4 linked regions of the Homo sapiens genome follow. The protein of the gene in region 4 purifies or fractionates together with the protein of the main gene of each other region. This does not show direct contact. Each region holds a gene or a part of one and is shown on either strand. Other genes may lie near its edges.

Region 1 (5,603 bases), on a different chromosome or scaffold from region 4:
GGCATGTTTAAATAGAAATCCTTCTGAGCCCTACTTTGGGGTCAAGGGAGCCGGCCCATTTATAGAGCTCTTATGATGTGGTAGGCAGCGGCAGTACTTAACCCTAGAGCAGCAGAAAGGGATCCGAATAATTTAGAGAGCTCCATAAAAATTCAGAAAAATAATCTGTAAGAAGGTTCTGTAAATACTTTGATAAAATATTGATTCAGTATGAGATATTAGACTAAAAGTATTTAGAGAAAGGCCAAAGTAGATTTTTGCCCCCTTTAAATGCTCAATAAATAACTTTCAGAAGTGATTAGAGGGAATAAAATGCACATTTATTACAGGGTGTGAAAGCTGTTTTGGCCGAAAGTTATGAAAAAATACACAAAGATCATTTGATTGGAATTGGCATAGCTCCACTTCAGTTCCTTCCAGGAGAAAATGCAGATTCCTTGGGCCTCTCCGGTAGAGAAACATTTTCTTTAACATTTCCTGAAGAACTGTCTCCTGGAATTACATTGAATATACAGGTATCTCTAAATTTTTCAAATATATGATTATGCACTCAAATGTTTATGAATTATTGAATAAGAATCAATTGCTGTAAATTATATACTAATGTCACTTAATGAATGTTAAGTTGCCATTTAAGATGACTCTCTCTTCCATACTTAGATCTAGCTATGTTAATAGTTCATGTTCTCTGAGGAAAAGTGGAAAGAACTGGGTGCTTATACCAGAAAAAAAGAACACATGAAGGGGAATCTTGACTTCCACTTAACAAGTGTCAGCTTTCTTTTCATGGTGGTCATTTTTTTGCTGTCCTGATCTAATTTTAACCGAGGCATACATACCACTCCAAAGAGAGCAAAGTTGAGCGTTCAAAGTTAGAGCAAAACAGACTTTACAACTAAGAAAAAAGGGGAAAGAGTAGGAGTTACTGATTACATGCAATCAATATTTGGTGTAAAATGAATGTGAGTAGTGAGTATAACTTCCCCAATTAATAAGTCAAAATCTAAATGCAGCTATTTTTCTACTTAACTATGAAGCCCATGGTCAGGTATCTCAGGTGTTTTTCAAGCAGCAGCAAAGTTTCAGGCAATCAGAATATAAGAAATTAGAACCAAGATAAATCAGACAGAATCTGTGGCAAGTATAGTCATTAAATATGAAGACAAATGGTCTTAACCATCAAGTAGCACCTGGAAGATTTACTTGCTCACATGAGATGTTTTTGCTCCTTTCAAGACAAGCACTGGAAAAGTATTCAGCGTGATTGCTTCGTTTGAAGATGATGTGGAAATAACATTATACAAACATGGAGGATTATTAAACTTTGTGGCACGAAAATTCTCATAGTATCTACTTACCATAGATACCTTTCATAACTGGTAACTGCAAAGCCTTTTGTGCTGGACCCAGGAATCCTTACCATGGAGCAGCAGATAGTCCCAGTATACTCACTTATCTCATCCATGGATGTAAATGATGATGAATCAACATAGTAACTGAAATGAAATCTTCTTGATTTTAAATAATATACGAATGGTGCTATTAATATTGCTAAAATCAACGTGTGAAGTGTGTTGTGGAAGAGACCTGTAAGTATGGGGGGGGGGCGATATTTTATCAGACCATTTTGTAAATAAAGGCAGAATTTGTGTTGAAGATTCTTATATGAATAACCTTCCTGGATTTGTTTAGTTTTGCACCAATAAAACTGTGTACTACTGTTTGTTGGTTTAAGAGTAGCAGATTGAAATATAAGAAGCCAGATTAGACTCTAAAATTGTGGCCATTGGAATCTCATTTATAAATGGACCTTTTAAGTATATTAATTCCTCTTCAGAATTGAGCTGGACACATTTGGCATTCTTAGTTTGTCATATAACCAGGTTTATCCTTAGTCTAACTGCAAGGGATGGAACCTGCCCCAGGTCACAATCATTCTGTCCAATCCAGCCAAGGTTCCCTCCACATATGAAGATGGACCATGGCAGGATACAACTGATTGTGTGGCACCATGTATTAGCAGTGGGAATATGTATCACATATGATGCAGCCTTTCATATTTCAGCAGTTTGCCACTGTGACTGTCTGGCAAGCCCCCAGATGGCGTTATATTAATTGGATTAGATTATTTTGCTCACCTTATGTAATACTGTAACTTCCTATAACCTAATATTTTCGGTATCATTAACCAAAATTTCACACTCATAGTTGCTAAAGAGAATGTTATTCAATCATTAAACTCTGAACTGATTTCTTCTATACATTTAAATTATCCACCCTCAATAATACGGGTGCTCAACCCTATGCATTTTTTAAGTGTTGCTATTTCTTAATTAAATTGATTTCCTGTCATTTTGAATCATTTATCACCTGCGATGCATGATTCTATTAATTTTGTTATGTTACTGTTTTAACCAAAGCTGACCGTAAGGATAAAACACTTAAGTTGTTGCTGAGTACTATATATCCTCAATATGCATGTCTGCCCATCACATCAAATGTTCTGTCAACAAGATGTTTGGTAATTTTTTTTAAAAAGGTTGGAAAATTAATTATAGAAGGTTCTATACTGTTTTTTTAATTAAGAAACTAAGTCTAGCAGGCTAAAGGTTAATTGTAGTGATTTTTTTTCACATAGATATCTTTCTATGACCTAGTTAGTTACTGCAATTCAGAATTAGTTCACATTGCATAAAGAATTACTTGTTGTAAGCAAAATGCTGAAACTACCAAACCAGTGGATGAAGACCACTAAGAACTTTGCACATAATCATACAATCTTTTGAAAATATTTTGCAAATATGTGTTTAGACAATAAGATGGACTAGAGTTCGACAAAATGATTTCTTTATTTAAATTTTGTATAAGTATTTTCTTCGACACTTTCAAATTATATTGTGTTCTTGATATATGCTGTATATTTATTTGTTAGTGCATGTGTTTTTAATTTACATGAAAACATGAGTTAGGAGAAATTACAGGTTGAAAGATGAAATGCCTGTATGTGCTCTGAAGAAATGGTAATTCCAGATTGTGCAGGGGGAAACAAATCTATTTTGTTTTGTTTTGTTTTTTGAGACGGAGTCTTGCCCTGTGGCTGGGCTGGAGTGCAATGGCGCGATCTTGGCTCACTGCAACCTCCGCCTCCCGGGTTCAGGGGATTCTCCTGCCTCAGCCTCCTGAGTAGCTGGGACTACAAGCATGCACCACCACGCCCAGCTAATTTTTGTAGTTTTAGTAGAGATGGGGTTTCACCATGTTGGCCAGATGATCTGAATCTCTTGACCTCGTGATCCGCCCGCCTTGGCCTCCACAAGTGCTGGGATTACAGGTGTGAGCCACCACACCCGGCCTATATTGTTTTGAAAGCATACTCTATATATAGTTATGGGCAGAGGCACAGGCATCCTCAGCAGCTGATTCAGGAGATGATGGTAAAGCTAGCTAACTATGAATTAAACATTCACATATCCAGTCTACCTGGTCCAGTAATAATACAAGCAAATCTTGTATTTCAGGAACAAATCAAGGTTCTCTTAATTTTTTGGCTTATATACAATGAAGTAAAAACTTGATAAACATGGTTTCAAATTGAGGAGGAGAGTCTTGGATGTATGTTTTAATATGTATACCTTATAATTCTGCCTCTAGCCAAATGCTATGTTTGCAAAATGTGGCATCTGTTAGTTTTTATTGTCTGTGTCTTCTTTGTTTACTATACCTTGGGTAATTTTGTGTTACCAAAAAAAAAAAAAAAAAAAGGAAGTGTAATGTCAGACACACAAGAAAAGCAAATCAGTGTTGTAAGCTTAAAGTACAATTTCAAAGGTCACTACCAACAGCAGGGTTTTTTTTATACTTTGAAAACATTATGCTACATATCATTGCCATTTTCATATTTTGGGGTTTTGCTACTCTTATACAATGGAATCAATGGAAATGTCATCCAGCCACTGAATTGCCATTATTATATCTAAAAAGTTTCTAAGATGACAGTTATCACTATTTTGTTTTATCTCCATGCTGACATTTGAAAGAAGGTACTAGTATCCCTCTAGCCAGATTGCTTAGTTTTTCGTTGGTAATCAAACAACAGTTGTACTAAAGGAAAGTAAAGCTAGGACCTAAATCAGAATCATAGTTGCCTGCATATATGGTAACAAGGTCGTGTGCATTTGCTTTCACAGTGATGAGTGAGAGGATGAGAAGAAATTATTTGACATTTTTCTGTGGTTGAATAGAAGACACCTTTCTTTTGTCTTTAGGTTTAGGAGGAGATACTAAGATACTGGATGTTTATCCTATCTTAGTTTGGTTGGAGTAATAAGAGAGAAGAAGAGGGTGGACTTTGGCTTTTCAGTGTTTTTTCCCCTAAAGAGTGATATTGCTGACGTTTCTATCAATTTTACACATAATATGTGGCTATGAAACCATATATCTCACTTAAGTAACAAAGTAATCACTTTGTCTATCACTAAGTAATAGACAAAAATCATTGTCTATTATTTAAAGCCAACAAAACAGTGTAACAGTTTTAAGTTCAATAATGTTAAGTATTGTATAGAAATATATTGGAGGCAAAGTTCAGTTGATGACAATTGTGTATATGTTACTGATGCTGTAAATTATTTTTAATAAAGAAAATTGTATTATCACATTTGATTCTTGTTCTGTTTTGTAGTAGTTGAAAATAAAACAACATGATGTAAAAAATATGCTGCCATCCGGCTGGGCACGGTGGCTCACGCCTGTAATCCCAGCACTTTGGGAGGCCGAGGCAGGCGGATCACGAGGTCAGGAGATCGAGACCATCCTGGCCAACACAGTGAAACCCTGTCTGTACTAAAAATACAAAAAAATTAGCCGGACATGATGGCGGGCGCCTGTAGTCCCAGCTACTTGGGAGGCTGAGGCAGGAGGATAGCATAAACCCGGGAGGCAGAGTTTGCAGTGAGCAGAGTTCACGCCACTGCACTCCAGCCTGGGCGAAACAGTGAGACTCTGTCTCAAAAAAAAAAAAAAAAAGCAAAAATGAAATGTCCCGCCATCCAGATGCCATCCAGGAGCAGCTGAGGATGCCTGCTCCCTGTGCTGCCCGTTCATTAGTGTTCATGAAACAAGTCATCGGAAGCTGGGAGCCAGGATCCCAGGTGTATTTGTTTGTTCTCGCATTGGTATAAAGAAATGCCTGAGACTGGGTAATTTATTTTAAAAAGAGGTTTAATTGGCTCATGGTTCTGCAGGATGTACAGGAAGCATGATGCTGGCATCTGCTTGGCTTCTGGGGAGGCCTCAGGAAACTTACAATCAAGGTGGAAGATTAAGTGGGAGCAAGCACTTCACGTGGCCAGAGCAGGAGGAACAGAGAGACAGGGGAGGTGCCACACACTTTTAAACAACTAGATCTCAGGAGAACTCACTATTGGGACAACACCAAGGGGGATGGTGTTAAACCATAAGAAACCACCCCCATAATCCAGTCACCTCCCACCAGGCCCCACCTCCAACACTGGGGATTACAATCCGACATGAGATTTGGGCGGGGACACTCATCCAAAAAGACGTATCCTTTCTTCCCACTATTATTAGCAACCTAAAAGAGT
Region 2 (8,677 bases), on a different chromosome or scaffold from region 4:
ATTTAAAATTTTACCAACATGTCAAATAAAAATATGTACCTACAGAACAAAAAATACATAGCAATACGTACCTGTACTTATGCCTCAAATTCAACTCATGAGCTAAGAATGTGTTAACAATAAGTGCTTTTGCAAATAATTCCAAAGGAGTGAAAAGATTCTCTAGCTCAGTGAAATCTTCTGCTTCATAGAAGCTGATCCTAAAACTCAAACTTCTATTGGATTATTTACTCTATATTTCTTATGAATATTTTATAAACCTAGTCTTATTCAGTAGCCCCGCCTATTTTGGAAAATTGGGTGGGTACTTTCTAAGGCAGCCAGAAAGGTTTTGACTATCATAATTCTTCACAATTTTCTTGGGAATCTAGGATGGTCAATATTAATGTAACTTCTTCCCTTCCAAGAGAAGACATCACTGTAGCCAAGGGAATCAAAGTATTTTTAAAAATTCTAAAAAAAGTTTTACTCACCTCTTGTAAAGCTGTAGAAAAAAAAAAGAAAAAGTAGGAAACAATTATTAGTATCACTTCATGGATCAATAGCAATAATTAACAAATAGAGAAACAAGTTTATAGAATTGAATTACCTAATTAAGGACCAATTATATTTTTTTAAGAATATTTTAATGACCTAGAAATTATGCAGGTCAAAAGTATGGCAGGGATCAGCAGGGTGATTTGTTTGCAATATTAATATGTAAATGTATTTTGAATTAAATTATTAATTATTTACTATTTTATAACTGTTGTGAAATATTAATGTGTCTGAAGGATATTTTGAATGCTTAGCAATTAAGCTGGTAAAGTGCACAGATGAATCGCTGAATGTAAGACTAGTAGATTGATGAGGAAATAATTTATGATTTTGATCATTTTTAATACCTAAATATCGAAAAAAGGTAAAATTTAGGAAAGTATGTTACCTTAAAATTCTATATTGAATTTGTTTTTTATGAAACATTGAAGCTGACTTACTTTTTTATAAAACATTGAAGTTACCTAGTACTTCATTGAGTTTGTACCATTCTTAATATCCTTTTTCAAAAGGTCTAATTTGCACATTATTAACTATGAAAATGGATTAATTCAGACATCTGAATTTTGCTTTAAATTAGTTCACTTAAATTAGGTAAGATCATTTTACCAATATGTATCATTTTTGTCTCGGAGAAAGAGTTTTGTATAAATGGAAAAACCGGATTAAAGATCTTGAAAAATAATAGAAAAAATAAACAAAAGTACTATCCCCCCTTTTGCCATAATTGTTATAAGTCCTTAAAGAGTGAATTCTTCTCCTACGGTACAAAAATTATAGGTTAATACAGGATACAAGTGTGGCCAAGCTTGCAGTAGGATGAATCACCCCAAAAATTGCTTTAATTAGGTGGCCAAGAAGTGCGTTATTTGAAGTGAGAACATCTGTTGCAACAGTCACAATTTAGGAGGGTGGACCACATCCAGCACTGACATTTAAGGGCAATTTACGAGAATTACTGTTAAATTACAAGAATGATATGTTTACTTCATTGTGTCCATCAGTAGGAAGAATAATTATGCCTGACTTGATTAACGGAAGTCCTTATGATTTTGGAAATTTGCCTTTTAATTACTCAGACATGGACCATTTTGAAGAATGTGTGTTTGATAACATTTATTCCAGACTGTGGTTGGCTGTTGATCAGAAGGTAAGTTGCCTTTGTACCTTCAAATTTCCCTAAGTCTGCCTTCATTTTATTCTCTAGGAGCCGACTCTTTCCTCCCACTCTCAAGATCTCATTAAAAATATGAACTCGGTAATGTGAATTTGTTCACTGCAATTACTCCTTAGTATCCACAGTATGTATACTAAAAGTGAATGAAGGGGGAAGAGACACACAGACACACAGACACACACACACACACACACACACACACAAGCACACAAATGCATTAGAAATTATGCAGTGGTAGACACCGTGCTGTGTGGGTGGAACAACTTTTTGGAGTACTGGGTGTGGTCAGACAATACCATCCCCCATCTAGTCAATATCTTTGTCTAGCACTTTGGCAGCCATTTTCAAGATGAAAACGGACTGATCTTCTTCATTCTCTGTTGACATGAAAGTCTGGCCATGGAACCTAGAGCTGGAAAGTGGCCTTGGGGTCCCTTTAATCTCTGTCTCACATTTTAGAAAAGGCCGTTTGACTTGCCCAAAGTCACGCAGCAAATTGGTGTCAGACTCATGGGAAAAACCCCGGTCTCTTGAGTCTCATCTCAATGTTGATATTTCTCAACTTGCTGCGTTCATAATGTTTGCTTATCACTGGGAACATGTCAAAGGGGTAATTCTCAGGCTCAAACAAAATTTAGAGCAGATTTGAGTTAAAAAATGTTACCATTTCCATGACTAGAAAGTGAATTGAGACACTTATATTACTTTTCAGAATGTACCCACTCCAAGTAGCATCCATTCTTCTTTCCAGGGTTCACTGACTAGCCACTGGGAAAGGCTCCAACCAGAAATGCTGATCATTAATCTGTATAAATCCGTAGAAGCTTTAATTGGGATTCCATCTGCTTAAGGCCCTGTCCCCTGTACTTTCATTTTCCTTCCTCCAGAGGGCGCCTTATAACCATCATCATATCAGCATCGTCATCCTCCTCCTCCGGACAAGCCTTACAATGCCCAGAAGATAAAAGCTCTTAGGAGGTGAGTTTTACATTACTCAGTTGAAGGGCTTTCTAACGCAGGCCTCAAGTTTTACAAGGTGGACATCAGTGCGGTTATGGGGCCTGTGGGGTGCAGGCCCTTGACTTCCTCCACCACATTGGTCGTTAATATCTCATCCTTAGGGAAAAAGACCTTCCGCTCCCTTTGGGGGTTACTAAGCTGAGGAGCCAGACCGAGTTAACTGTCTCACTCTGAACTTAGAGGAAAAGTTCCCTAACTTTTGGCAAGGCTTTTATGTTTTCATTTTTTAAAGTAATTTCCATGTTTCTTATCAATTCCGGCGTTTTCCCACATGCCTGAGAGTCTGCCCTCCAAGTGTACCTGGAATTCAGGTTACAGGTTTTCCTTTTCAGGGCAGGGTGCCCTCCCATCTAACCTCTCTACCCAGTCTCCCCCAAACAAGCTGAAGGCACTTACATTGGCATGTTGCTAGGCATAAGGTTACTGCAAGCAGCAACAAAGTCCGCGTATCCACAAAGCTGAGCATGTCTAGCACTTAGACATGCAGACTCCTTGTGTCGCAGAGCCCCTGGGTCACCGGCGGAGGTATCACCTGGCGGGCGCGGGCATGCAGTCGTGGCCAGTACCTCCAACTTAGCCGAAACCTCCTGCTGCCGTGGTGCTAAAATAATAAAGCCCGGATCTGCCCTATTTATACGGCAAAAGTTTCCCTGGCCCTAGGGTGCCTCCAAAAGGGCCTCCACCAATGGGAGGGCTGGGGCTGGGGGCCCGGGCAGCCACAGCTGGGAGGAGCCTGCGGGGGCGCAGAGGAGGGAGCGAATGGGGGAAGGGACGTGGCCACGGGGCTGGCTTCTTAAATTGGTTCCATTCTTTTTGAGGACGTGGACACTTTTGAGGCTTTCAAGGGGAAACTCTGACTCGTTGTCTGCATACCTCCGCCCTCCGCATCCTCCCGCCCTCCCCCGCCCTTTCCAAGTTTGGAAACACTATGGGACACGTCGGAGTGCTCTGCAGCCCCGACATGGGCAGAATTTGCAGATCTCCGGCGATCAAAGCAGGAGCTGTCCAGTCCCGCCTCACCTGTGCCCTGTAGGCCACTTGTAGGGTGGAGGGCTCCAGCGGGAGCGGAGGGGGCAGAGAAGGAGGGAGGGAAGACTCGATAGCGTGGCGCAGCCGGAGCCCGCCTCCCCGCCCCTCCACCCCTGCACCCCGCCCCCAGCCCCGTCCAGCTTTTCTCTAGCTTTGGGGCTCGTGTGCGCCCACTGTTTCAGCAGTGATGCACTCTCTTTGTCTTATGACTTCGGGAAAGGGCGGGTCCTGTCTGTGGAGGGCTGGGTTGCAGTCGGAGGGCGCCTTTTGTTGGCAGGTGGGCTGGGGAGCAGGCTCGAGGCTGCTTGGCACCCGGCTACAGGGAGGATAGGCTTTGCGAACTCTAGACTAGACCGAGTCACCTGGGGAAGTCCTTCGACCTCCTAGCTTGCCTTTGCTGAGGCTCATTCCAAAGAGGGTCTTTTGGGGGATGGTCTGGCACTCCGACACGACTCCAACCGACCTGGAGACCGAGAACTTATTTCTCAGTCTCTCCTTTCTGAGGCTGCGGTGGGGGATCTTTCATGGTTTCCAGTCTCCCCTCCCCTTCTCCATGGGCTCCTTGTCTGGATTTACCAGTTCTACCCTGAGCCTGGACCCTTCAACCCTCCCGTGAGCCCCCCGGTCCCTCTTGACCTTGCTGCTTACTCTCTGTCCCATCTCTTACAGCCACACCCAAGCACCTCCCCTAGCACATCCAGAGGCCCTTCTGATTCGAGCTTGGGGTCTTCGTAGTCTTCGCTGGTAACACCCCAAGCAGTGCGCCCACCAACGTGGATGTTAACTCTCTCCCCAGCACCCAACTTCCCTCTTCTCTGGCCGCCTCCATCCAACCCTCCACTCCCTACTAGGGAGAGGAGGAACTGGTACTTTGACCCTGAGGTGGGAGGCCAAAGGTCCTGTGCCTTTTTCTAAAGCCTCTTGGGATGGCATTCCAGGCCCTAGGTTTGAAAGGCTGTGTGTGTGTGTGTGCGCGCGCGCGCGTGTGCGTGTGTGTGTGTGTGTGTGTGTGTGTGTCAGGCCTCTCCTCTACTTGCCTAAGGTCCCCATGAGGCAGCGGGGGCCTAGTTAGAGTGCTGCTCTATCCCAGAAGTCATCGCAAAGGGGGCATCTTTAGGTCAGTTCTGTCTCTAAGAAACAGAAGCAAGTGGGCTGTAGTTCCCTGAGAATCTTTTTCCCTTCCTTCCCCCCACCCCCTCCCCGCTTTTTTTGCTTTGCCTTAAGGAAGAATTTCTGCAGAAGTTAACTCCATCAGCAGCTTCTGTAAATAAAAGGGACTATTCTAAAGCAGGTTACTCTTTCTAAATGTAAAAGAAGAAAAAAAGGTTAATGCAAGTAAAAGTGGATAACCAAAAACTATAATAAACTCTTGTTTTATTCTAATTAAAGGCACTCACTTGGGAGACCACTTTGGATGATTTTTTGAAGTAACTGGGAGTGAAAGAATTTGAAAGGGTTACTGGTCATTCCTAGAAGGGGGTTTACAGGGAGCAATCCACATTCAAATTTTTTTCTAACTAGGCAACAATGTTTGAAGTTTTCTAGGTTCTAGGAACAACAACAACAAAAGACCTGAGGTTGAATTGTATATTCCAAGAACATTTTTAACATTTCCCTGAAATATCACCGTTACAGAACTAACAAAAAACTTTTAAAGTGGAAATCATTTTTATCAGGAAAGAAAAACTTCAATACTACATCATAACAAATTTTTTTCTGCATATCAGAAGAGTGAGAAATGATTTCTAAGAATCATTGTTACCACTGTGCTGAATTACCTTTGCAGGGCATATGTGTGTATTTGTCCTGTGTTGCTGAGAGTCAGAGACTAATTCTGAGCAAAATGACTCAGGGTGGTAATGCAACAGATTTATGAAAGAAACCCTCCAAATACCCTTCAGTGAGGTTATCTGATAACGCTTCTGGGGTCAAGTTGGCTCAATCATTGGATTTGCAATAGATATCCCAAGTTTTAAACATTTCATTGTAGGTTTTGTTGTTGTTGTCAAAATAGTTTAAAACATAGAATGTTTTTAGAAGTGTGATTATAATTTCTCTTTTAGCCAAAAAAGAAAAATCCTCAGCAAGTTTTTGAGAATTAGAGGACTGTAAATTGAAGCAGACATCTATAAACTTAGAGGGAAAACGTCTCTGCTAAAGGCAGCAGAGTGAACTGATAACTTGAAAAGCATTCCTGGAAACTGATGCAAATACCAAATGCCGCTGTGCTCCCTCCCTGCTGATGTGGCAGGGTTTGAAGCAGGCAGCCGTCAGCATTTGGTGGGAGGCCCTGGACCTAGAAACAAAAAATGAAAGTGGAGAAAACCAAACAAGAATCTTTCTTTCTTAAAGTGAGAATCAAGTTCTAATTGCAGCTGTTTTTCCATATAACTTGGGGGAAAATAGTTGATTAGGTGTTTGTTTTAAAGGAGGAATTTTTAGTGGTCAGTTAGATCTCTGTTAAATATTTTTGTGACTCCAAATAAGGAGCAGTTTTTCCTGGGGATGGGGGTGGGACTGGTAGAGCTGTGAGAGCTGACCCAGAACCTGAACTGAATGCCCTGGTGAGGGCCCTGATGGTTCTAGTGTGGGGAGAGGGGAGAGGGAGGGAGGAGAAAATGAGTAGAAGGAAAAACAAGTAAGGGGTGGGGTGGGGTCAAGACTGAGAGTAGAGGGATGGAAGAAGGGAGGCAGAGGAGACTAAAGATTCCTACAACTTTGGTGCTAGACGGTTAATACCTGGGTTCCTATGCCCAAATTATTTTCTATGAAAGAAAAGATAATTTCTTTAGCTTCCTATAACCCACTGATTACAAACTGGGCCACATGTTTATATATGGCAAGAAAATGGTTGAGAGTCTGGCTAATACAGAAATGCAGAACAGCCTGACGAGGCCCTGATGTCTTAATCTTATATTCCTTTCTTTGATCAAAGGTAAACATCGGACTGACATCTCCTTTCAAACATTCATTGAGGATCTACTCTGTGAGAAGAAGCAATACCATGTTATCTCATTCTAGTTCCAGTTCTAGTTGACTTGATTGTCAAACGACTGCTAAGAAGGTATTTGCTGAGAATTAATGTGGTAGCTGAAGAGTTAAGTGCTGGTTTTTAATTTTGTATTTATTTATTTATTGAGAAGGTCTCACTTTATCACCCAGGCTGGAGTGCAGTAGTATGATCTGGGGGCACTGCAGCCTCGAATTCCTGGATTCACGTGATCCTCTTGCCCCAGCCTCCCTAGTGGATGGGACTACAGGTGCATGCCACCATGCCAGGCTAATTTTTTGTATTCTTTGTAGAGATGAGGTTTCACCATGTTGCCTAGGCTTTTCTTAAACTCCAACTGAGCTCAAGTGATCCACCTGCCTCTGCCTCTTAAAGTGCTTGGATTACAGGTGTGAGCCACTGTGCCCAGCAAGGGCTGATTTCTTTCTGTGATATTTGTTTGAAAGGCATGGAGATTCCTGCTCTGTGTCATATCAATTAGGATATTCAGTTCCCATTGATTATTTAAATGAGTCAAGATATATATATATATATTTTTTTTTTTTTGAGACAGAGTTTTTGCTCTGTTGCTCAGGCTGGAGTGCAATGACACGATCTCAGCTCACTGCAACCTCTGCCTCTTGGGTTCAAGCGATTCTCCTGCCTCAGCCTCCCAAGTAGCTGGGATTACAGGTGTCCACAACCACCCCTGGCTAATTTTTCTATTTTTCAGTAGAGAGGAGGCTTCACCATGTTTGCCAGGCTAGTCTGGAACTCTTGACCTCAGGTGATCCACCCACCTCGGCCTCCCAAAGTGCTAGGATTACAGGCATGAGCCACCTCGCCCAGCTGGTAAGATGTATGTTTACTCAAGCAATATTTAGTGTTATGCCAGGCACTTACTGGGTTGGTGGGTATATAATTATGAAACAGAATGCCAAGGTCATTGCCCTCAGGGGGCTTATAGTCTGTTGGAGGATAGAGAAGAGTGTGATGAATACTGTAATGGAGGAATAGAATGCTTACATGTTTATGGGAGGATTTAGGATGGACACCTCATCTAGATTCAGATAAGTGGAATCAAGGAGGGCTTCCTGGAGGATGCAACATCCTTGTTCAACCCTTAAATACAAACAAAATTTTAAAAAGAGGTGTGAGAGTGGTGTGGGCACAGAGGCATTGAAAAATTTGGCAATCTGAGGAATGGAGCATTTCAGTACGATGGGATTGTGGTGGAAAAGAGGGAGGATAGAGGAAGGAGCTAGAGATGAGATTGGTGGTTTTGGCAGGGACCAGATCAAAAAGGACCTTTTAGGCTGTATTCTGGTGTTTGTGTTTTCTCAAGTGTGCTATGGGAGTGTTTAGATTATTTTAAACAGAGAGGGTAGGAAACCAGAGAGTGTTTTGAATAAGATGACTGGGGCTGCAGTGTGGAGAAACGATTAGAAGGGGAGCACAGTAGAGACAGGGAGAACAGTAAGGAGACTGCAGCAGGAATTCTGAGGGGAAATGATGGTGGCCTGAACTAGGATAGATGTGGTGGAGCTCAAGAGAAGTTGATGAGCTATAGAAATGTTTCAGAAGTAGAAGAAAAGTGCTCTGATGTTTGGTAATGGGGAGAGAGAGAGAGAGGAAGAATTCAAGGGGATGACTTAAGGAGCACTGCCAGTTTCTGGCTTTGGCAACTGGATGACTGGAGGTGCCATCCAGTGACTTGGGGAACATTTGAGGAGGAGATAGCTTGGGGTGGGGAGGGGAGGATAAAGAGGCCAATTCATGTTCAATTTTGGGTGATTGTGGGCCACCTAAGAGGAGAAGTCTCATAGATAATTAGATACTTAGGCCTCAAGTCCACAATCTCTATTTGGCCTTGACTTATGGATAAAGGAGTCATCAGATGACTGATGTCATGGGAGTGATGAAAT
Region 3 (7,865 bases), on a different chromosome or scaffold from region 4:
GATGATAATAAACATATGTTTTGAACTGCCCATTTCTTCATTGATGTTGTCATATGACAGTACTTTTGTTAAAGCCGATTATTGGTTTGTAAATTTCAGTTTGGGAAGGTATAAATTGGATCTTAACCGTGTAGCAGAAGAGTAGAAAATTTGGAGTAGTAGAAACATTTTGAAGTTTGGGGAGTTTAAACAGTTTTATTGGGAGGTTATAACTTAGTATATATGCAAAAATATAAAAGAGAATTCTTACTAGATAGACCTTACAGCCATTTTTTTCCCTCTTATATAAGTCATAACTTGTCCAGTCAGAATAACCATTCTTCTGAGTGTTGAACATGTGTTTCGTTTTTACTGTTTATTTTACATTTGTATTTACAGTTTTGAACTCCAGTAATAAGTAATTGAAAACTCTGATGTTTCTTTATTCATTTTAATGCTATTTTAAGGTAATTAGTAGAAAATGTTTGAGATGTTGACCTAAAAAATTTGGTATAATTATCCTAATGTGTTTTAGGTGGGAATAAAGTTTATATTACTCAGTTGGCAAAATTTTTAAAGTACCTTCATTTTTGATTATTGAATAACTTTCAGTTGTAACTCTTGTTAAAACAGTACTAAGATAAAAATCCTTACTAATAAAATTTCCAAATTACAATTAGTTAGTGGTCCATTTATTTCCATTAGTTTTTGTCATTGGCAGAATTTTGAGTATGTAAGAATAACTTAGCCCTTAGTTGACACTTGTTTTAGCAGGATTTATAGTAAAGTAGATTTTTTAAAATTTATTTTTATTTTTTATTTTTTTCCTCATCCTGACTCTCAAGTTAAAAATTGCGTTCATAGATTTCATTAGAGGTAACCTGAAAGTTACTTTTGGTATTTTAAAAATCATACTTGTCAGTCAAGTCAATTGTCATTTCGTAGCTTCTGTTTAGTACTAATATGTAGTAGAAGTATTTGTTATGACATTTAAAAAAGTGTTGCCCGATCATTAAAAAGTCAGGAAACAACAGGTGCTGGAGAGGATGTGGAGAAATAGGAACACTTTTACACTGTTGGTGGGACTGACTGTAAACTAGTTCAACCATTGTGGAAAACAGTGTGGCGATTCCTCAAGGATCTAGAACTAGAAATACCGTTTGACCCAGCAATCCCATTACTGGGTATATACCCAAAGGATTATAATAATCATGCTGCTATAAAGACACATGCACACGTATGTTTATTGTGTCACTATTCACAATAGCAAAGACTTGGAACCAACCCAAATGTCGATCGATGATAGACTGGATTAAGCAAACGTGGCACATATACACCATGGAATACTATGCAGCCATAAAAAATGATGAGTTCATGTCCTTTGTAGGGACATGGATGGAGCTGGAAACCATCATTCTCAGCAAGCTATCGCAAGGACAAAACACCAAATGCATGTTCTCACTCATAGGTGGGAATTGAACAATGAGAACACTTGGACACAGGAAGGGGAACATCACACACCGGGGGCTGTTGTGGGGTAGGGGGAGGGGGGAGGGATAGCATTAGGAGATATACCTAATGTAAATGACAAGTTAATGGGTGCAGCACACCAATATGGCACATGTATACATATGTAACAAACCTGCACGTTGAGCACATGTACCCTAAAACTTAAAGTATAATAAAAAAAAAAAGTGTTGCCATGTTAAAACAATTTAAATGAAATTTTTAAAACATAAAATTTATCTCTATGTAAAATCCTTCCATCCTAACATAACAGCTGTTATTTTTTCCATTTTCCTTTCTAGGCTTTATTCATATATAGTATGATGTAATTTTTAAGAGACTGGGGCCTCACTATGTTGCCCAGTCTGGCCTCGAGCTCCTGGGTTCAAGCGATTCTCCTGCCTCGGCCTCTTCAGTAGCTGGGACTATAGGCTGTGCCACCACACCTGGCTTTATAATGTAATTTTAAGGAAATGAACCTAAAGTTAAGTCAGATATGATTTACTATATGAAGATACAAGAGTATTTCAAGTTGAAGGGGTTAGCCGTGTTTGGGGTAGTGTACCAGTAACCTCCAAAAACTAGACATTTGGTTTAATTTTGTGACTGTTTTGTTTTTAAACATTAGTTTGCTTTTCATTCTATAGCCAGATTTTCTTGTTGTTACAAGGGAAAATTGTCCTGGTTCCTTCTTGAAACTAGTGAGGGAGGCATAGTGAGATGGAAAGAATGGGCTGTGGCATCAGAGACTTGGGTTCAGATTCTTGGTCTGTTGTGTTCATTAGCCTCTGAGAGCCTTACTTTCTTCCCCTGTAAAATGGCAGTAGTCTTTTTTTCTTTTCTGTTTTTTCATATGAAGTCTTGCTCTGTTGCCCAGGCTGGAGTGCAGTGGTGCGATCTTGGTTCACTGCAACCTCCGCCTCCCAGGTTCAAGTGATTCTCCTGCTTCAGCCTCCCGAGTAGCTGGGACAACAGGTGCGTGCCACCATACCTGGCTAATTTTTGTATTTTTAGTAGAGATGGGGTTTCACCATGTTGACCAGGATGGTCTCCATCTCTTGATCTCCTGATCCACCTGCCTTAGCCTCCCAAAGTGCTGGGGTTACAGGTGTGAGCCACCATGCCCAGCCAGTAGTCTTTTTTCCAGTGGGCCTTCTTGTGAGGATTAAAGGAGAGAATGTATGTTAAGTGTTTTGAGTAAAGTGGGCTACCCACTGATGCCATCATTAATAAATATCTAATTTTGAATTTTATTTTAGCACTTTATTCCATGAATAAAGTGATTGATTTGGAAAGGTCTTTTAAAATTCTTTTAAACAATCAACTCCCAGCAGGCAAAAAAAGCAAGATGATGTGCATATTTTGAATATTGGTAAAAATCTTTCATACTACCTTGATTTCATAAAGTAGTAGCAAATAGGACTTAGTTCTGTCTAATAAACCAAAACATGCCTGTATGTCCTGATAATATGTTTGCTTAATTAGCTTGTCTTAATAGTTTCACATCTGTTTAGTCAGGAAAGGCAGGTGGTGTGGTAGAAACAGTGGCCTCTGCAATGGGATAGACTTGGGTTCAGATACCTGCCTTTTCCACTGAATAGTTGTGTGATAGCCTTTGAAGTCTGTTTCCTCATCCTTGCAGGATTTTTCTGAAAATAAATGGGATAATAGTCAAGGATTTCTTTTTCCTTTAACTTAGTATTGTACATGGCTCTCCACTTTTTTTTTTTTTTTTTTTTGAGGCAGAGTCTCGCTCTGTCACCCAGGCTGGAGCGCAGTGCTATTTTAGCCATGCCCAGCTAATTTTTGTATTTTTAGTAGAAACGAGGTTTCACTGTGTTAGCCAGGATGGTCTCAATCTCCTGACCTTGTGATCCACCCATCTCAGCCTCCCAAAGTGCCGGAATTACAGGCGTGAGCCACCGCGCCCGGCCGGCTCTCCACTGTTTGTACCCATTTTGACAGTGTCTTTCTGAAGTTCAACGAATATAACTTCTTCTATGATGTGTCAGTGCTTCTTATTAATGCCTGAACTTATCAAGGTAATGCTCCAGAAAGTAAAACACGTTCAAGATTCGTTTTTGCTTTTACCTGATGTATCGAGTTCTAAAATGTAGTAATGTAAACATGGCCGGGTGCGGTGGCTCATGCCTGTAATCCCAGCACTTTGGGAGGCTGAAGTGGGCAGATCACTTGAGGTCAGGAGTTCAAGACCAGCCTGGCAAACATGGTGAAACCCCATCTCAACTAAAAATACAAAATTTAGCTGAGCACTGTGGCATGTGCCTGTAATCCCAGCTACTTGGGAGGCTGAGGCAGGAGAATCTCTTGAACCTGGGAGCCGGAGGTTGCAGTGAACCAAGATTGTGCCATTGCACTCCAGCCTCGGTGACAGAGTGAGACCGTGCCTCCAAAAAAAAAAAAAAAAGTAAGTAATAGTAATATGAGTTATTAGCTAATGAGCATTTTGTATTCACATCAAAATAGGTGATCATCATATGTATTAATGTTATAAATATGTATTATGGGCATTTCTAGATCTTGCTACTAAATCTGAATATAATTTGAAAGTTATGTCCTCTGGAAATTGAGCATCTCAGAAGATGCTTTTAGGTGCTAGTAGGCTTTATTTAAAAAATAATGATGTCACTTAATTTTGAGGGCACAAAAGGATATACAGTAAAAAGTCCGTTGTCTTCCCTTTCCTGTCTCCTGGTTACTTGGTTCCTCTTCCCAGAGGAAACCACTGTTAATCATTTCCTAGTGTATCCTTCAAGAGATATCCAAGGAACATTGTTTTGAGTCTGGATTCCAAAGTTATTGAACACAGTGGTAAAAAAATCTTTTTTGATATGTTTACACTAAAAGGTAAAAAAATACCTGTACAGGAACAAGTTTTTTAACTTTAAATTGTCTACTTTATGTTAGGTCTTGGAAAGATATGGTGATGACCAAAACAAATACAGCACCTTATGTGCCTAATAGTCTAATAGGGAAAACAGATAATTGTGGGGAAAAAATGTGGTTACAAACTGTGTTAAATGTCATGAAGGAAAAGCTCAGGGTACTGTGACAGCATGAAGCAGGGACAAGACCTGGAGAGGTGGGGATGGGCAGAGTGGTCTTTGGGGAAGTGGTTTTTCTTTTTTTTTTTTTCAAGACAAGAGTCTTGCTCTGTCACCCATGCTGGAGTGTAATAGCGTGATCTGAGCTCACTGCAACCTCCACCTCCCAGGTTCAAGTGATTCTCCTGCCTCAGCCGCCCCAGTAACTGGAATTACATGCACACGCCACCATGCCTGGCTACTTTTTGTATTTTTAAGTAGAGATCGGGTTTCACTATGTTGGCCAGGCTGGTCTCGAATTCCTGACCTCAAGTGATCCGCCCGCCTTGGCCTCCCAAAGTGCTGGGATTACAGGTGTGACCTTTTTTTTTTTTTTTTTTTTTTAAATTAGATGGAGACAAGGTCTCACTAGGTTCCCCAGGCTGATCTAGAACTCCTGAGCTTAAGTGATCCTCCCGCCTTGGCCTTCCAGAGTGCTGGGATTACAGGCGTGAGCCACCGTGCCTGGCCAAGAAAGGGGAAGTGGTTTTTCCTAGAGCTAGGAAGGATGAGTAAGGAGAGATAGGAAGTGGGAACAAAACAAACAAATGCTTGTAGACTTGATAGGAGGCTATGATCCAGAGAGATAGAGGGTTTTGTGATAAAAGTAGAAAGTTGAATATATTTGAGAGAGATTTGGAAGGCAAGATAGTCAGGATTTGTCGAATGATTAAATATGAGAGAGGGAGAAGGAAGTGTCGTGGATGACTCAGGTTACAATGGATGATGATGCCACTCACTGAGAGAGAACACTGGAAAGAGGACCATGTTTGAGAGATTGAGATCATGAGTTTGGGTTTGGATATGTTGAGTATGAGGTACTTTTGAGACATCTCAGTGGAGATATTAAGTAAGCAGTTGTATAAATGGAAATTGGAGGTGAAGCCTGGATTAGAGAAAAATTTTAGAGTCAAGCACCTGTGGAGGTTAATTGTGGCCATGGGATGTGATTGAGATCTAGGGCAGTGATGCTTAAACTCTATGGTCTCAGGACTTCCTTAAGCTCTTAAAAATTATTGTGGATCCTGAAGAACTTTTGTTTATGTTAGTATGCTTACTGCTATTTGCCATATTCAGAATGAAACTGGGAAGTTGTTTTTTTTTTTTTTTTTTTTTTTTTGAGATGGAGTCTTGCTCTGTCACCCAGGCTGGAGTGCAGTGGCACAATCTTGGCTCACTGCAACCTCTGCCTCCTGGGTTCAAGTGATTCTCCAGCATCAGCCTCCCTAGTAGCTGGGATTACAGGTGTGCGCCACCGTGTCCAGCTAATTTTTGTAGTTTTAGTAGAGACGGAGTTTCACCATGTTGGCCAGGCTGATCTTGAACTCCTGACCTCAGGTCAGAACCCAGGAGGCGGAGCTTGCAGTGAGCCGAGATCGCCCCACTGCACTCCAGCCTGGGCGACAGAGCAAGACTCTGTCTCAAAAAAAAAAAAAAAAATTATAATAATAAACCCCTTACATGTTAAAATTTTTTTGTGAAAAATAACTTTTTTAAAAGAAAACATTTTGGGAGAATAGAGGCATTAATTTACATTTTTGCAAATCTCCTTAAAGTCTGCCTTAATGGAAGATAGCTGGATTCTCATATCTGCTTCTGCATTCAGTTTGTTGCATTATGTTATTTTGATTGAAATATATGAAAAAATCATCCACAGATGTATTTGGGAAAGGGAAGAAGAATATTATATTTTTTAACGTAATCATGGATATGCTTCTTTGATAACATGTCAAAATTCAACAAGTGATAGTTTCTTAAGGATTAGTTATAATGTGGATTCTGTTTTTTTTTTTTTTTTTTTCTTCGAGGCAGATTCTCGCACCCAGGTTGGAGTGTAGTGGTGCGATCTTGGCTCACTGCAACCTCCACCTCCTAGATTCAAGCAGTTCTCCCGCCTTAGCCTCCTGAGTAGCTGGGACTACAGGCGCAGACAACCACACTGGAATAATTTTTTTTATTTTTAGTATTTTATGTTGGTCAGGCTGGCCTCGAACTCCTTACCTCAAGTGATGCACCTGCCTTGGCCTCCCAAAGTACTGGATTACAGGCATGAGCCACTGCACCCTACCAGGATTAGTTATAATGTGGATTCTGATATCATATCAGTGAACTTATACTCACTCTGTTACATTAAAATCTGATGGTCTGTCTTATACTTTGAGTGACTGTTTTACCCATGTTTACTTTTGCAAAAATTATGCATTGGTCATGTGGAAAATATCAGTCCACTGAGTTACACAGATTTTCCAAATGTGGACATATCTCATTCCACAGTGCCAAAAAGTCTTATTTGTCAATATGACTACCACTCTCATCAGACAAGTTTTTAAATATTCAGAAGCTTTCAAGCTCATGGTGTCAAATACAAGTTTTCCAAAAATGTCATTTTTGCTTGTAAAGTTGAGTGTTATGATTGGCAACAAATACAGTTGATCGTTTTCCTTGAAATGAAAGGCATACGTGATTAAATTTTGAAAAAATGTTTGCCAGATAGCCAAGTCTGAATGATCAGTTTGTCTGATAGTCCTTCAAGTAAAAATGGTGTTGCAAGAAAAAAGTGGCTAGTTCAGTCCTCAAGTATGTACTTTGCCATTATTCTTCCGTATGCAGTGCTTTATAATTAATTCCCATTTCCTTTAAGTAGAATATTGAAAAGATGTATCTTCAGGGGTTGAGATTTAGTAAATTTAATAATTTTGCTTCATCTAGTTTATTCTTTAGTGAAACTGGCTTTTTTCTTAATACCAGTGCTTGGCAGTGAAGAATACAGTTATCTAGTACAGGTTAGGGCTACTGCCTTGATTCATGTTAAAGCACCTGCAGTTTTATCCACTATTGCTTTTGCATCATTAGTGCGCATGTCAACACAGGAAAGAAAGTGATTCAAGAAGAGAAAGGGCAATTGTTTTGAATACTAGTGAGAGGTCAAGTAGGGGTTAGATGAAAAGATGTCCTTTAGATTTAGCAACATTCTCAAGGTCATTGATCTTAATGAGAGCTGAGTGGAGTGGTGGTGAGGGGCAGATCTGAATGGGTTGAGGAGTGAGTGGAACATGAAATGGAGGACATGTGGAAACTTTTTTGAAGAATTGAATTGGAAAAGGAGTGTGGGGTTTTTTCTTTTAAAGGTCAAAGAGATAAGAAAGAGAGTGAATAATCCCTAGGGTAAGGATTCTGAAAAACTGGGAGAGAATTGGCTTTTGTATAGAAGCAGTGCTTCTTAAATTTTAATGTGCATAATGAGAGTCACCTGGGGATCATGTTAAAATGCATATT
Region 4 (8,668 bases):
GATTACTAGCTGGATGGATATGAAAGCCCGGAGTTGCCAGTGGCCATCTTCGTCAACATGTAATGAGACTCAACAAAGAGGAAAACAGAACAACATCCATAACCTCTACTGATATTGATTCATCATCTTCCAGACCTCATCTAATTTAAGTACTCGCTTGACTCAAATCTTGGCAACTTACCATGTAACCTGGAACCAAATGATGCACTAGGTCAACCAGGTTTTCTCTCAAAACCTATGTTTTGTTAATTACAAAACACAGAAAATACTGAATAGTTAACATAAAGTAAAAGGCCATGAGACAGCCTTGGAGCTCTATAGGGTAATGGAAAGACAGAATTTTAAAGGAAAAAACAAGTAGACAGAGCAGATGTTCTTCAGATGTCCCACGAGCGAGAAAAGGAGTCACATATCTCTAGCACTGCTTAGATTCCTTATAGTTTTCCAGTACTAGATGCATATAGGATAGGAATGGTTCATTCATTTGAAATACATTTACTAAGAGCTTGTAAATGTTTAATATATGTGATCGATTAAATTGTAATAGAAAAATATTCACTTCCTCTTTGTCACCTCCAAGGAAGGAGTTGTATTTCCCTGCCCCTTGAATTTGGCCTTTGCCAAATATCTTACTTTGGCCAATAGGAAATAAACACATGATGTGAGCAGGGGTTTAAAATGTGTCTCTGTGGTTGGGCTTGCTCTTATACCTCTGCTATCACCATGAGGACTTCAGCCCACTAGTCCAAAGATTAGAGACATATGGACCACATGTGCATCATAGAGATACCCAGATGACTACAGCCTATGTCGGTCAGCTCCCAGGTGGCCCCCAGATGCACCAACAAAATAAATACTAACTGTTGTATGCCACTGTGATGTTGCGGTTCTTACTTAGCAATAGCTTACTGATAAAATACACTAAGGACTAGGTGCTATGCGCCACTTAAAGACTGTCCTTACTCTCAGGCTTTCCACAGACACTGAACAACATCTACTAAAAATCAATTAACCAGGCCCTGTGCTAGGTGCAGAGGATGTAAATTAATAAAACATCACCTTTTCCCAGGGTGAATGCCCATTCTAGTAAGAAAAAGAGACCCTGATCACATGATCATAAAATAATATAAAGGGCTCATTGGTAGAGTTGGCTGAGGGTCTAACTTAGCCCAGAGGCATTAGGGGTGGCTTCACAGAAGAGTAGTTTGAAATGGAAGTGTGAAGAATGAACAATCATTCACCAAGTAGAGAAGATAAAAAGACTATAAGCAGGCAGATATATACCAAAAGTTTCGATGTCAGAACGTGTGGGGACTTCATGTAACAGCCACAGCTGAAACTTGTCACTGTTTTCATTTAGACCGCAATTTAGAATGAACATAAGTGCTGTAGTTTTTACTATACTGAGAATCACTGAAAGCCAGGTATCATGGCATACCCCTGTAATTCCAACTACTCAGGAGGCTGAGGTGGGAGGATTGCTTGAGCCCAGGAGTTACCTGCCTGGGCAACAAGCAAGACTCTATCTTATTTAAAAAAAAAAAAAAAAAAAAAAGGAAGGGTGGGGGCGGTGGGCGTGGCAGGCATGGTGGCTGATACCTGTAATCCCAGCACTTCGGGAGGCGAGGCAAGTGAATCACCTGAGGTCAGGAGTTTGAGACCAGCCTGGCCAACATGGCGAAACTCCGTCTCTACTAAAAACACAAAAATTAGCTGGGCGTAATGGCGAGCACCTGTAATCCCAGCTATTCGGAAGGCTGAGTACGGGAGAATTGCTTGAACCAGGGAGGCGGAGGCTGCAGTGAGCCGAGATTGCGCCATTGCACTCACGTCTGGGCAACACAGTAAGGCTCTGTATCGAAAAAAAAAAAAAAAAAAGAAGGGGGTTGCCGGGCACGGTGGCTCATGCCTGTAATCCCAGTACTTTGGGAAGCCGAGGTGGGTGGATCACCTGAGGTGGGGAGTTCGAGACCAGCTTGACAAACATGGAGAAACCCCGTCTCTACTTAAAAAAAAAAAAAATTAGCCAGGCGTGGTGGTGCATGCCTGTAATCCCAGCTACTGGGGAGACTGAGGAAGGAGAATCATTTGAACCCTAGAGGCGGAGGTTGTGGTGAGCGGAGATGGCAGCCATTGCAGTCCAGCCTGGGCAACAAGAGGGAAACTCCATTTCAAAAAAAAAGGAGGGGGGAAGGGGGGTTGAGTCCACTCTCCCCAGCTCACGCCAGATCTCATTTCAGTGGTCACTATTAAAAAAAATTAGATATTTACTTTATTATAGATACTTCCTATGATGATCTGTGAGGACATGCATTTTCTTATCCTGTAATACCATTTGTAACAATAGCAAAACCAGATCATTACTGGTCTGGAAAGACTGTCAATGTATCAGCAAATAAATCTTAATTAACTCTGATGATCTACTTAACTCATAACTCTAAAAGCACTAAAAGACCACTGTATGAAAAGGTGACTCAAGGCAACTGCAAACAAAGTGATCCCCAAAATACTAAAAGCACAATCTCAAGTAAAGTGGCAATAGCTGGGAAACTCTTTTCCAAACACAACTGTCAGAAATGGAAAAATGTCCTCCTGAGTAAAGTTTTCGGCAGAAAACTTCAGGCAGAGGCATAACACTGCTATGCAAAAACAATAACCAGACTTCACTTCAAGAAGTGAGCGAAGAATGTGAGTGATCATAAATCAGAACTTCCGTCAAGCTTGCACGAGTGGAGTTGTAAGTAACAGCAGAAACTTTGAAGTACCAGAAGATACCATCATTCAAAAACGAACACACTTTGACTAGCCCACCTTGGACACGGAGAATCTCGCTGATCACTACAAACTACAAGATAATCATTTAACTTTGAGACCTCAGTGAGAGAGGGTATCAGCTTTTCCTACTCCTTGCACGCTCCGCTGTACGGAAGATGCCGAGGGAACGCATGCCGTGTCTCAGTCCCGGCATAGTCAACCACGCTGGGCAAAAGACGGGGCCAGAGGGTGCAGACGAATATCGGTAACTCGAACCAGGCTGGGAGTTAAGCTAGAAGAAACTGGGGAAGGAGGCAAAACAGAAGCAGGAAAAGAGCAGTGGGGAGCGGCGGGCGCACCAGAGACTGGCGAGAAGGGGAAAAGTCCCCCAGACGCACAAAAATGTCTAGAAGGGGTTCTTCTACTTCGATCTGAGTTTCCCAGGAGCTCAGCCTTGGCTGTCCCGCTCCCCACCCAACCCCACATGATTCCTCCTCTTGGATGGGACGCTTAGGTGAAGCGAGGGGGAGCTTCGCAGGTGGCTCCCGGCAAACTGAGAAGGGTCTCCCAGAGCTGCCAAGAGGAAAGAACTGCGAACAGTCGCTCCCCCGGTACGTGAGAGAGGAGTGACCAGAGGCAAAGGTGAGGCGAGCAGGTTCTCCCTTACCTGCCGCAGGAGCTTCCACCGGGCGGCTCCCAGGGGCGCCGAGACTACGGGCCCCCGAGTGGTGCAGCCAACTGCCGGACTCCCGCCCGCTGCTCGCGCGGTCTCGCCGGTCCCAGCGTCCGCGACTCGCGACTCCATCTCACTGGAGCCTTCCACACCCGGAGGTGCCACCGCCGCAGCTCGTCCCCTGCCAGGACCTGCCAACTTCTTCCCTGTCAGGACCTGTGACGCCCGGCACCCTCCCTCCACCGGACCAGGCATGCGCGCTCTCCCCGAATTCCGCATTTCCGGTACTCGCATCTCCTTGGCAACCAGGGCCGAGCTGTCACGCCATTGCACCATTCTTGCTGGTAGCCATCTTGAGTGAGGGCGGACCAGAGGATGAGAGAGCTGTGGCAGGGCTACTGGAACGCTGTCCCTCATTGTTTTAGCCTTCTGTGCTTCATCTCGAGCTCAGAAGACTAGCGAAGAACGAAAAGTCTTATATATTTCGAGACTAAAGAACCCAGGAACCCAAGAAGACTCCTTGACCACAACAAAGATGGCGAAATCTGCCTGTTGCTCGTGCTAGATTGAGGTTACGTAGATTGGCGTGCTGCAAACCAGCTCTAGGCGGCTCTGGGTAAGTTGTCGTTCTGTGGGCTGCGGAACGCAGACTTCGGCTGGACTTGCCTGCGGTGACACCTGCTCCCCTCTGAGAGCTTCAGGTTCTCCGGCCTGCCTTCACTGGTTTGTGTCCAGAGCCGGACTGATTCTCTCAATTTGCGTATGTATGGGGGGTGTGCTGGTCTCTTTCCTTCTCCCCTTTCTCCCCCCGCCCAGCCACCCACCCCTCAGTCCCCAGGTCCTCGCTTTTTGACTAATGTCCCGGCACTGCGTGCGTGTCACCTGGTCCCTCTCCCTGTTGCATTCAGATCGCCTCATCCCTGGGGTGGAGAGTTGCACGGGGTAAACGAATAGGTTCTCCTGAGAACACCCATTTATCTACCCCACCCCCATCCTAGCCTTGCATACTGTCTTCTTGGGGATGAAAGATGGATGGATAAAGGCTGTGGGAACGTGGTGATGTAGGACCTTTGCAGGTCCTTGTTATTCGGGTCTTTTTTCCCCTTTTTTTACTAGTGTCGGCTAGTAAACTAGTGTTGCTCCCCTACCCCCAATCGCCCATTATTTTGCTGCGACATGGAAAGGGATTAAGGGGGGCGGGGGCGTCGTAGCGCATCTGATCTATGGTAAATTTGACGCAGCATTCTACCTTTGATACCAGGGGGCATTTTGTGGAAGACTTCCATAATGACATTCAGCGGTGTGCAACATACCTAGATTATTCCTGTCGTAAATAATAGCAACTGCCATTTATTGAGTGGTCACTATGTGCCAGGCACTGTATGGTCTTAATGTTAAGCTGTCTCATTTTGTCTTTACAACAACAACCCTAGAAGGTAAATGGTGTCATTTCATTTTTGCAGATGAAGAAACTGAGGCCCGGAGACACAGTTAAGTGTAGGAGCTAAGACCTCAACCCAGGTCTCTCTGACTCTTAACTACTTATTAGCAATCAAGGTTAATAAAAGCTACCTCCTGACAAACCAGAGATGGCCTTACATTTTATTTGTGCATCTTGCAGGGGTTTTTTGTTGTTTTTAATTAAAGCGCTAAATACCTTTTTAACATTAAAAATCCGAAGTTGAGTATGTCCAGTATTTGGAACCGAACCAAATTGGATTTTTTGCTATACAGCTTACTGTACAAGTGACCTGGAACAGTTGCTTAGAACCTCCCACAGCCACAGTTTGGCAACCTGTAAAATGTGCATGGTAATATCTACTTTATTAAGTCCATATAAAATTTAAATTAGACAAACAAGATAAAAGCACCTGGCAGTTAGTTAACACTCAACAATAATTAATCTTCCCTCCCCCACCTTTATTAAATAATTAGGCTTTTCCAGTTTATCTTCCACATATATACCAAAGATACGTTCATAATTATGTAAGACCAAAGGGCTTTTTACCTTTTACAGCCCTGAGTTCCTGAGATACCCCATTAAGTCTGTGTACTTATTTGCAAATTTATATTTTGTTTCTTGTTTTGTTTTTTGTTTTAGTTTAACCCCTATGTGTGCCAGAGTCAGTGCTGCATAGTTTGAGCCTGATAGGATTAACTTTACAAATGAGACATTTAAGTCACATCTGCCAAGAATTATGATTTGAATGAAACTTTAACTTACACAGGTTTTTAGATTTAGTTAGCCTAAGTTATCAGCTGTCTGAAGTTATTCATAACCTAAGTGGGGCATGGCCCTGAAAAGGAGGGATGAGAACTGCTGATCTTAGTTACTCTGAGAACCCACTACTCTGTAATCATACCTATAAAATCATTCGTGTGCTGGCAGCCCCAAAAGGAGCATAAACCAGGGACTTTGATATCATGCAGCAGAAGACCAAATTATTTCTCCAAGCTTTGAAGTATAGTATTCCTCACCTTGGAAAATGCATGCAGAAACAGCATTTGAATCACTATAACTTCGCTGATCATTGTTACAATAGAATAAAATTGAAAAAATATCACCTAACCAAGTGTCTTCAGAATAAACCCAAGATATCAGAGTTAGCAAGAAACATCCCAAGTCGGAGCTTCTCATGTAAGGTATGGACTGTTTAAGTTAACCTATTTGTAGGTCATTAAGATTAATTTTAATTTAAAAATAAAGAATGGGTAGAATATCAGAGCTACTAATTTTCTCAGTAATTCTAACTTGATTTTTCTAATTTTCAAGTCTCAATTGTCTCTAGTCAAAAGTAAGTATAAAAGAGTATATACATCGAGGCAGGCAGATCACCTGAGGTCAGGAGTTCGAGACCAGCCTGGCCAACATGGTAAAACCCTGTCTCTACTAAAAATACAAAAGTTAGCTAGGCGTCATGGCACCCACCTGTAATCCCAGCTACTTGGGAGGCTGAGGCAGAGAATCTCTTGAACCCAGGAGGCAGAGGTTGCGGTGAGCTGAGATCGCACCACAGCACTCCAGCCTGGGTGACAGGGAGACTCTGTCTGAAAAAAAAAAAAAAAAAAAAAGTGTATACATATATTTATAGGGCTCTAATGTAATATATAAAAATGTAGGTTTATAAAAAATGATTCACCTCAGGACTTCCTTAGTATGCCTGCCAGTGCATTTCAAAGTATAATTCGGCCTTCTAAATTTCCTAGAACACTAAATTATAGCTCTTAATAAAATCTAATGATACGCTAATTGTTTTATGAATCACAAATCAGTAAACTTCAGTAAAGGCCATGAATTGTATTTTATTTCTCTGTAAAAAAATGAAAAATAATCTTGCGTTTTTGACCACTTGAGTCATTCAGGAAGACACTGTCAGAGTATTGTACTTCTGCCAGACCCCAAGCTGTGGGCGTGAACTCAACCTTAAGGACCTGATTGCCCTTATATAGAGAGTAACCACATAACCACTTTTGCCTGGCACAGCTCCAGCCTACACCTGTTGTCCCTGTGTAATTATTAATAGTGTCCCCTTTCCTCTCAAAAGTGTCCTGGTTAGAATGGTAAATTATATGGTCATCCTACAGTAAGTAGGATTAAATGATCTATTTGTGCTGCTGCTGCTTTGACATCCCTCTCCTACCTTTTACTTCTTATGTTCCTTAGGTTCCTTAATGATATTTGGGGGTGGTATTCTTGCAATAGTTTCACAAATTTATGATTTTAATATTTTTTTTATTTTAATTTCTGGTTTTGTCGCATACTGATTTTTCTTTTAGTCTGTTTTGGCTTCCTCCTTTCTTCGGGTAAAATATATGTATAACAAAGTTTTCCACTTGATCCATTTTAAAGTATGCAATTCAGTGGCTTTCAAAGTTCATCTGTGTTGTATGCATGTATCATAACTTCATTTCTTTTTATAGTTGAATAATATTCCTTTGTATGTATAAACCACATTTTGTTTATCCATTCCTGTAATTGATGGACACTTGGGCAGATTCTTCTCATTTTAGAAACTATCTTTTCAATCTAATTTTTCTCAGTTTTTCTAGTTTTTGTTCAATTTTTGCCGCTATCTTAGCTGATACCTATTTAGGTGTTGTGTGTGTCTCTTTTGCTTTTAACATTTTATATGTTAGCCCCCTAGTCTTCCTAGACTTTTACTGTTTATGTTTTAGTCTTTGAAATTCTTTTCCTTTTTGTAGTGTCTTGCCTTAGTTTAGTACTTTCTTTACTCATTTAGAAATTCTTTATAACTTCTTTTTATTTCATTTTTGTGTTTTTTGTACATCTTTCCTACTTCAGAAAGATAAAATTTTTAATTTCACCTATTGAACTAAATTTTGGACCTTTAGGTTATTTTATTTTGCATTGTGTTTAGAACATTTTGTCATGTCGTACTTTGTCTTAACACTTAGTTTATAAATAGTAGACAGGAATTACCATCAGAGTAACAGCTGTGATATTAGCTCACATTCTAAACAGAAGGTTGACTATTTCTTCCCTCCATTTGTTCCTGAAGCAACTTTTCCGTTCTCTTTTATAGATTCCCACTACCTGGAAACTTTAACCTGACTCAATAACTCCAAGTATTAATAGTTCATTTAGTAATTCCTTTACCTGATAAAGTAATCCTGCTGTCACATGTCATGTATCAACCATTCCCTCTATGAGAAATGATGTAATGTAAAAGCCATGGTCTTTATCACTGAGACCTGGGGAAGCTTTATAAAGATGCCCCGGCAGCTGTGAAAACACCTGTAGAGAAGAATGCACATTTCCTTCTTTCAGCAAGCATCCACTGATTTCCAACTCTGTCCACTTTTATAGGGTGTAATAAAGTAGAAAAAGTAGTTACTGCTTTTAGGTAAATTAAAATGTCTGCTTAAAGAGCTATTACCTATATAAGTTAACTAAGGAACAGAAAAGTAGCATGTGTAGTGGGAATGTTAGAAGGCAAAAGATCCAGCCACGATTGGTGTGACTGAACTAATCAGGACTCCTAATTTTCCTGACTGAAAAAAATAGGGAGTTCTGATCAGGCATACTGGCTCACGCCAGTAATCCCAGAACATTGGGAGGCCAAGGCGAGCAGATTGTCCGAGCTCAGGAATTCGAGACCAGCCTTGGCAACATGGCAAAACCCCAACTCTACCAAAAAGACTAAAAATTAGCTGGGTATGGTGGCGCACGCCTGTAATCCCAGCTGCTTGGAAGGCTGATGTGGGATGATTGATTCAGCC

What was found.
Region 1: the proteins of CAMKMT (region 4) and IREB2 purify together in Homo sapiens (affinity purification with mass spectrometry; 2 studies listed by BioGRID and IntAct, with this or other methods). This does not show direct contact.
Region 2: the proteins of CAMKMT (region 4) and COL1A2 purify together in Homo sapiens (affinity purification with mass spectrometry; 3 studies listed by BioGRID and IntAct, with this or other methods). This does not show direct contact.
Region 3: the proteins of CAMKMT (region 4) and HECTD1 purify together in Homo sapiens (affinity purification with mass spectrometry; 3 studies listed by BioGRID and IntAct, with this or other methods). This does not show direct contact.

Annotation. Positions count from the first base shown.
Region 1 is NC_000015.10:78,496,797-78,502,399, forward strand, and holds the end of IREB2 (iron-responsive element-binding protein 2), read left to right. Parts: intron 1-329; coding exon 330-515; intron 516-1,236; coding exon 1,237-1,347; 3' UTR 1,348-4,657; downstream 4,658-5,603. UniProt on the Homo sapiens protein: RNA-binding protein that binds to iron-responsive elements (IRES), which are stem-loop structures found in the 5'-UTR of ferritin, and delta aminolevulinic acid synthase mRNAs, and in the 3'-UTR of transferrin receptor mRNA.
Region 2 is NC_000007.14:94,389,555-94,398,231, reverse strand, and holds the start of COL1A2 (collagen alpha-2(I) chain precursor), read right to left. Parts: upstream 3,338-8,677; 5' UTR 3,201-3,337; coding exon 3,131-3,200; intron 485-3,130; coding exon 474-484; intron 1-473. UniProt on the Homo sapiens protein: Type I collagen is a member of group I collagen (fibrillar forming collagen).
Region 3 is NC_000014.9:31,197,559-31,205,423, reverse strand, and holds part of HECTD1 (E3 ubiquitin-protein ligase HECTD1), read left to right. Parts: intron 1-7,865. UniProt on the Homo sapiens protein: E3 ubiquitin-protein ligase which accepts ubiquitin from an E2 ubiquitin-conjugating enzyme in the form of a thioester and then directly transfers the ubiquitin to targeted substrates.
Region 4 is NC_000002.12:44,356,899-44,365,566, reverse strand, and holds the start of CAMKMT (calmodulin-lysine N-methyltransferase), read right to left. Parts: upstream 3,621-8,668; 5' UTR 3,560-3,620; coding exon 3,422-3,559; intron 1-3,421. Other genes in the region: PREPL (prolyl endopeptidase-like), read left to right, coding at 5,852-6,070.